Linked DNA regions of Homo sapiens. The main gene of each other region encodes a partner of the protein of the gene in region 2 in a complex. Each region holds a gene or a part of one and is shown on either strand. Other genes may lie near its edges. The genes, in order: TTF2 and PPP1R8.

Region 1 (3,918 bases), about 89 Mb from region 2:
ACTGGGTTTGTAATTCCCACACATTATCACAGCTATGGGCATTCCTTTGGGGAAGAAGTCCCTAGCTTTCATCTTTACCCACTTTCTCAAATAAAGCATAACTGTTTCTTGATGACTCAAAAGTTTAAAACCACACTGCACTGTGTAATCTCTACACTGGGATCCCCCTACGAATGACATAATTAGGGCTGGCTGTGAGGCCCTGTATGAATTTTCCCCAGGCTCTTCCCTTCATCCTTTCCCTCTAACAAGCTGAGAGCTGTCACTTAGTGTTATTCACACGCCTACCTCTAACAATACGCCCTATATGCTTCTTGTTTTGTGTAAGTTTTTAATCACTCCCTTCCAACTTATTATGAAAAAATTTAAATATATATAACATTTGAGAGTAAACAGGTTTGAGTGAAGGTTTAAAGTACTCTCCTAAACCTGTGGCACTTTTTTTGGCCTGTATATTGGTTATCAGATATAGTCCAAATAAATCAAGTTTATCAAATAATTGTCTTCAAATACCACTGTGCTAGTTTGTATAGCAAAGCATTTGTGTAGATGGGATCCTAAATAAGAGTGTTTCTCTTAATGTAAAACCAAATCTTATGCCACCATTAATGTTGAATTCCTGCAAAGGTAAAAATGCTTCTATCTCACAAAACTTGACCTGGGTACTATATCTGAGAGGCTCAGTGTAAATCATCTAACTCATGAAACAGAAACATGGGAAGTTAGTATACATGTTGAAAGGGCACTTTTCTAATACTGATATCCATTATGTACTCTACATCTGACACGGAGAAAAATAACTTTTCTCTACCAAGTTTTGCTGAATAGAGAGCAGGAGATGTTTAATGATGTGATGATAGTTTTAAAATTCACATAGAAAATGTAGACACTTGGTACTGTGAAAACATTAACACTTGACAAACTATTAACTTTCCTCACTTTAGAGAAGATGCTTAACATTTCTGACTCTCTCCTCCCACCTCAGCCTCACGAGTAGCTGGGACTACAGGCGTGTGATACCATGCCTAGACAATTTTTTTTAATTTTTCGTAGAGACGGGATTTCACCATGTTGCCCAGGCTGGTTTCGAACCCCTGGGCTCAAGCGATTCGCTCGCCTTCGCCTCCCAAAGTGCTGGGATTACAGGCGTCACACACCGCGCCAGGCCCTCCGTTGTTTCTTCCAGCGCTAATTTCTTTGAATTATCAATTTCACCATTTAGATGCAGAGAATCCTACTTAAAAATAAGAAGGCTAACAACTAATCACTAGAGTGTTTTAAGCTCAAACATTTAAAAAAAACCGTCGGGCCTAAAACTAGTGCAAAACAGGGACAAATTATTTTCCACTATGTCTGCTGTGTGTCCTTACTCCTTTAAAGGGGGAGGGACTGTCTGGGCAGGAGAAGGGAGTGGTTAAGGCCTGTCAAGTGAATAGAAACCCAGAGCTGGAAAACACCGGATCCTCAATTTTACAGGTAGGGGAACCATCGGCCCAGAGAGGGGGGTAACCAGCCTCGGGTCACACAGCCAGAATTAGCTGGGCGTCTTCCGAACACGCCACGCTGCCCTGGGATCACCAATTGCTTAAAGGGTCCTGACACCGCAAACTAGGGCCCCACCACTCCTCGGCCCTGTGACGCCCGACAGCGGGGAGCGGGAAGCTCCTCTCGGGAGGCCCCGGGCAGCCACAGGGAGTGGGGCCCAGCTCCAGACCTACTCGGTGGCCCGCACGAAGCTGCACGTGTCTGCCCGGCACACGTAGAAGCTCTTTCCTTTATTCGGGCCATCGCGGACGCCGGTCTTAAGAAAGCAGAAAGTCCCTGAAGAGAGAAGAAAGTGAACAACGATTACGCCACGCTAAATCAACAGGCCCCGGGACGCTGAGACCCTAGCCCCTTACCGTGCTCTGGACACCTAACTTCTTCCATTTCGCTGGGTCCCCCAAGTTCCACAAAGCCCCGCCCCCAATTCTGCTTCCGCCTTTTACTCCGCCCTCTTTGTTCAGGAACCAACCATCACTCAGCTCTTGCAGTCTTAATCCCTCCCATAATTCTCCGCCCTTGGCCTTCACCCGTCCTAGCCGCTATCAGCCAATCATATAGGAACTTCGCTCACCTCCAACCAATCACAGCTGCCCTCAGGTATGGCGCGCGCCGAAATCAAATACGGAGCCAGGGGGCGTAAAGGACCCGGCTTTTGCAGGCTGGGGCGTGGCTGAGGCTGGGGAGAAGCTTAGAAGGTGGCGGGGCTTCTGGAGGAAAAGAAGCTTCGATTTGCAGGTCTTGGAAGACGGAAGGGCAACTCTTGTTTACGTTTAAAACCGAGAGGCGGCCCTAGGGGTAGCGCCAGTTAGCAGGCGCTGAAAGGCCCTGGCTTCGTGGGTGTCTCTGAGCCAGGCTGGCGCTCGTGCGCGCTGGGCTCCGCGCTCAGTCGCTGGGGTGGGAGGCCAGGGGAAGCCGCCGCTGCAGGCCGAGCCGCGAGATTTGCAGTGCAGGAGCCGAAGCGGCGGGCATGGTGGGAGGTCCTTGGAAGCTGCTGCGGGGAACTGAAACGGCTCTGATAGGCAGGCACAAAGACTTCTCTAGGACCCCCTACAATGCTTTACGTTTGCCTCGTGCTTTAGATTTCACAAAGTGCTTACACATAACACGACCCTCCTCACTCGACCTGGTGAGATGGGTAGCATTTTGTGGAAGATTCCGAGACTCAAGTTTGAGAGACTCACCCAAGGTCAGAGTTGGCGAGTGGGCGGTCCGTGGACAGGTGCGCAGGTCTCAGCGCCATTTGGCCCGCGCTGCTGCTTCCTGTGTGTACTGGATGTTCTCTAGGCTCGCCCAGCGTGGAAGCCCCGAGTTACCAGCCGCAACGTGGAAACCACAGAAGGGGAAATAGATGACTTTTGGTGAAGGCGAATTTTACTTTATCATTTTGTATTGTCAAACTTTTTTTTACTATTATGCTTTTGTAATTTTAAAAATCGAAGACGAGGTTAAATAGAAGAAAGGGGACAGTTCCCTTCTATTTAACTTCATCCTCGATTTTTAAAATTTGAAGTTGTAATCAAAACTATTAGTAAACAGAGAGGAATAGATATTAGATTTATTGCAATAGAAATAGTTTCATATTGCAGCTATTGAGGACCATATGTCCCAGACATATGGTGTGGCACCTGCACTGTTCTTATGGGGGCCGTAGAACAGAAAATCTGTAATGTCTAGGAAATCTGGGCGATGTGATAAATGTACATGTTATGGGGATCCGGAGGAAGGGAGACAAACCTGAGGTATCATTTATTAATTAAACAGTACTTACTAAATAGCTTTTTTGTGCCCGTTGTGGACTAGGTGCTTGAGAAATGTAAAATTCATTCATTCACACACACAAAGTTTGAAACAACTATTCTAAGCACAAGGAACTTACTCAGTATTTTGAGGAGACTGAACTAGTACATGTTGAACACTTAAATAACAATATAAAATAGTATTTAAATGTCAAAATGAATGGAGTTAGCAGTAACTCTCTAGGACTAGAGAAAAATGGAATTTCCAAAGTGAAGTTCCTTTATACATAACTACCCTTCCGAAACTTAGATGAACTTAGAGATAAGACAGGAACAACAAATAGGTAGAAGCATTTTCATTATTCCAAGATTGTTATTCTTGCAAATGATGTATTTGTACATGTTTAATAGATGCTGTATTGGAGGTAGTATACCATGAATACAGGATTTGCAGAAAGAGGGGCATGGTAATTAATTATTTCTTGAATAATTTTCGAAACAAGGCAAAATCGGGGCCTCTTAAATATCCCGTTAAGGAAGAAGCTCCTCCTCTGCAAGTACCCAAGTCGGTATCTCCAGTCCAACCTCACAAAAGTGTGCACAGCCAAATCACAGACAGGAGGAATATTTCTTCCAT
Region 2 (3,918 bases):
CTATGACCATGTAGCTGTGAGTCTCCCATATTAGACCAATTTTATATTTGCTTGCTCAGCTAGAATTTAGGTTCAAGGCCCCATTATTGAATGCAGTTTTTTCATTGTGGTTTTTTGGTATTTAATAAAAATGTTGCAGTTCCACGGTTGCTAGATTGAAAAGCTATCTGAGATCTTTTGAAGGTTACTCTGTAAATATATTGTTGTCACTTTTGAGATGTTGTAGAGATAACCAGGTATTTTGCAAAGTATTAAGGCATGCACGAGTTTTAATGATTTCTCCTGTTATGAATACATCATGGACTCAGCCAGTCACAGAGAGCCCCTTTGTCATGGGTTCTTCTCTCTTAAAGATTTAAAACCTCAAGATTATTCAAAGAAATAATTTAGCTAAAATATCTGTAAAACCTTTTTTGCTATAGATTGTTCCACAGTTACAAAATATTTGTTGCTGAATAGCACAAAGCTTGAAGACATATAGGGATCTGTTTTATTACTAGAATTTAGCAAATCTTTAGTTTGCAACAGGAAGAAACAGACAGGGTTGCCTAGTCTTAATGATAACATCACATTCCTTTGTGGAATAATTGGTATTACATTTTCAAAACACTCTAACTTGCCAGACACTCCTCTGATCATTGGTGTCTATTAGCTGATAACGTTCTCTTTCGATGTTGTTAAGTGTGCTGAGTTGCCACAAAGTTGTCAAGTTACAATCCTTAGACATCACTGTATTCTTGAGAGGCGTAGACCTGAGATGTGCTTATTTTTAGATTTAAACTTGATCAGCACTTGATACTAACCGAGCTGTCTATATCCTAGCCTTGTGTCAAAGGCTTGTGATGTGTTGTGATAGCTGGGTTTAAGAAGTGCAATATTAAAACAAAAGCCATGAGTCTTTTAAGCCCAGTGTGTAAAGATACACTCTGAGTTATAACTCAGAGGCACAACTGGATAGCAGTACTGGCCATAGCTAGTCAAGAAGCTACGGCTTTAGTGACTGTTGAAAGCCAGTGCATTATTTCATTCACTTGGACAGAAGCAGCACATTGTTCAACATCTAACACATTTCCTTGGTTCTAAGACATACTGTTTTCTGTTAAAATTCCATACATTTTGGCCAGGTGCGGTGGCGGCTCACACCTGGCCTCCCAGCACTTTGGGAGGCCGAGGCGGGCAGATCACCTGAGGTCAGGAGTTCAAGACCAGGCTGGCCAGCATGGCAAAACCCCGTCTCTACTAAAAGTAAAAAAATTAGCCAGGTGCAGTGGCACACCCCTATAATCCCAGCTACTTGGGAGGCTGAGGCAGGAGAATCGCTTGAACCCAGGAGGCAGAGTTTGCAGTGAGTGGAGATTGCACCACTGCACTGCAGCCTAGGCAACAAAGCAAGACTCCATCTCAAAAAAAAAATTCATTCATTTTAACATTTCTGTAATTGGGGTGCCTTTAATACTGAATGTGTACATTTAATTTGGAGGCACTCTTTTTTTTTCCTCTCAAAGAAATCCCTAAATCTCTAGTATGTCTTTTGGCACCCTAGATTCATAGAAATTTAGTCATTGTTATTTTAGAACCCAAGAGCTGGTGGTCTTTCATGTTCCTTCAGCACAATCTGTGAGCACTGTGGTTAGCAAATTTAAGTTTGTGACAGCATAATCCATGTGCATATAAATATGAATGAGAAGTGCAATGAGATTCAGCCCAAATAACTATTACCTAGAGAGAACAAGTTGTTGAAATTTCTGGGCTCTCTCTTAATCCTGAAATAATGTCTTATTTTTAACTCAAGTCTTAAAAACCTTGGGTCAAAGCAGACATGAAGGTGACTGACTGAGCTGTCAGGCTGTTGTTGAATCTTGGTTCTCCATAGTAGTGTGGGCCCAGAACAAGCTCTTCCAGCAGCAGATGGGCACTGCCAGATAGGGTTTCCCAGAGGTGACCCACATATCCAAGCTAGCCTGAATTAATTGAACCTTAAGGCTGAGCTTGAAAGAAACTGGCTAAGTGATTGTTTAAGGAAAAGAGTGTGACCCACAGTACTTATTCTCTCCTTAAAATATTCCTTGCCATATGGTGCATTTTTTGATGTAAGTAGAATGAAGAAAATATATAATGTGGTTAAAACAGCTTAGACTCTGAAGCCAGACAAATCTGAATTTCTAACCCGGCCCACAAGTATCTAACTGTGTGAACTTGAGTATGTTAATTTCTTTATGCCTCAATTTTGTCATTTATAAAAATAGGAAGAGAATAGTATTACCCACCTCATAGGGTGGTTGTGAGGATGAAATGATATAATGTAAAACTCATAGCATAGTGTGTGGCATAGAAGCGCCTAGCAGTTGTTACTGTAATCAGTGCTGAAATTGTGCTTGCATGAGGTGTATCTTTTGGTTTTGTAAGGGGATAATAGCAGCCCATTGTGAGTTAAAGGACTTAGCCAGGAATGAAATATAAGCTTCTTGATTCCCAGCCGGGTACTAACTTGACTATACTCTACTCAGCTTTATGCTATATTTTCTCAGGGATTTTAGGACTATAGTGTGAAATGTGAACTAGCGTTTAATGAGACCTCATGTTTAAAGGAAAAACACAACATACCCAAATGAGAGTTATTCCTCAAGTGCTCCCACTGGATTACTAGACCACTAGCACTGGAAGAAGCTTTAGCAATAATTCATCTAGAGTCCTTCATCTATAACAGTCCAGTTTATAACCGATCTGTGGCAAAGGCTTTACTGATCCAGGATTAAAAGAAATATAAGGACAGGTATAGCAAGTTTTTTATTTTTATTTTTTTGTTTGTTTTTGTTTTCGAGATAGAGTCTTGCTCTGTCGCCCAGGCTGGAGTGCAGTGGCCGATCTCGGCTCACTGCAAGCTCTGCCTCCCGGGCTCATGCCATTCTCCTGCCTCAGCCTCCCGAGTAGCTGGGACTACAGGCACCTGCCACCACGCCCGGCTAATTTTTTTTTTGTATTTTTAGTAGAGACGGGGTTTCACTGTGTTAGCCAGGATGGTTTTGATCTCCTGACCTTGTGATCCGCCTGCCTCGGCCTCCCAAAGTGCTGGGATTACAGGTTTGAGCCACCGCACCCGGCCAGCAAGTTTTTTATAAAGCTAAATTTAGCTCAGGTCTAGCACGGTGGCTAACACCGGTAATCCCAGCACTTTGGGAGGTTGAGGCTGGCCATTCACCTGAGGTGAGGAGTTCGAGACCAGCCTGGGCAACATGGTGAAACTTGTTTGTTTTGAGACTGTCTCAAAAACAAACAAAAATACTTTGGGACTATGGCAGCATGATTAGAATAGAAATAGGTGTTTACACTTCATTCCTTTCCCAAATATACATTTGAATGTTTATTTTCTGAGAAGCAATCTTATTACAATTTTTTTCGGTTTCACTAGGCTAAAAGCAATCTTGTTACCTTATAGACATGCATTGTGCTTCTTGTTTCCTAATTGATCTAAAATTAAGATCCAACAGAACCTTTTTTCAGAAGACAGCCACTCTTCATACAATTGTTGATCTCAGGCCAGGCACGGTGGCTCACCCCTGTAATCCCAGCACTTTGGGAGTCTGAGGCGGGTGGATCATGAGGTCAGGAGATCAAGACCATCCTGGCTAACACGGTGAAACCCTGTCTCTTCTAAAAATACAAAAAATTAGCTGGGCGTGGTGGCACACGCCTGTAGTCCCAGCTACTCGGGAGGCTGAGGCAGGAGAATGGTGTGAACCCGGGAGGCAGAGCTTGTAGTGAGCCGAGATCACGCCACTGCACTCCAGCCTGGGTGACAGAGACTCGTCTCAAAAAAAAAAAAGAGTTGTTACTGTCTTGAGGGCAGGCCACTTATATCTAATAGAATTAAGAAAAGTTGGGCCGGGCGCAGCGGTTGGCTCATGCTTGTAATCCCAG

The links.
Region 1: PPP1R8 (region 2) and TTF2 share a complex: the UniProt entries of both Homo sapiens proteins name them as parts of the spliceosome.

What each region holds. Positions count from the first base shown.
Region 1 is NC_000001.11:117,058,358-117,062,275, reverse strand, and holds the start of TTF2 (transcription termination factor 2), read right to left. Parts: upstream 1,951-3,918; 5' UTR 1,930-1,950; coding exon 1,902-1,929; intron 1,822-1,901; coding exon 1,719-1,821; intron 1-1,718. UniProt on the Homo sapiens protein: DsDNA-dependent ATPase which acts as a transcription termination factor by coupling ATP hydrolysis with removal of RNA polymerase II from the DNA template. May contribute to mitotic transcription repression. May also be involved in pre-mRNA splicing.
Region 2 is NC_000001.11:27,833,615-27,837,532, forward strand, and holds part of PPP1R8 (nuclear inhibitor of protein phosphatase 1), read left to right. Parts: intron 1-786; exon of another isoform or gene 787-952; intron 953-3,918. UniProt on the Homo sapiens protein: Inhibitor subunit of the major nuclear protein phosphatase-1 (PP-1). It has RNA-binding activity but does not cleave RNA and may target PP-1 to RNA-associated substrates. May also be involved in pre-mRNA splicing.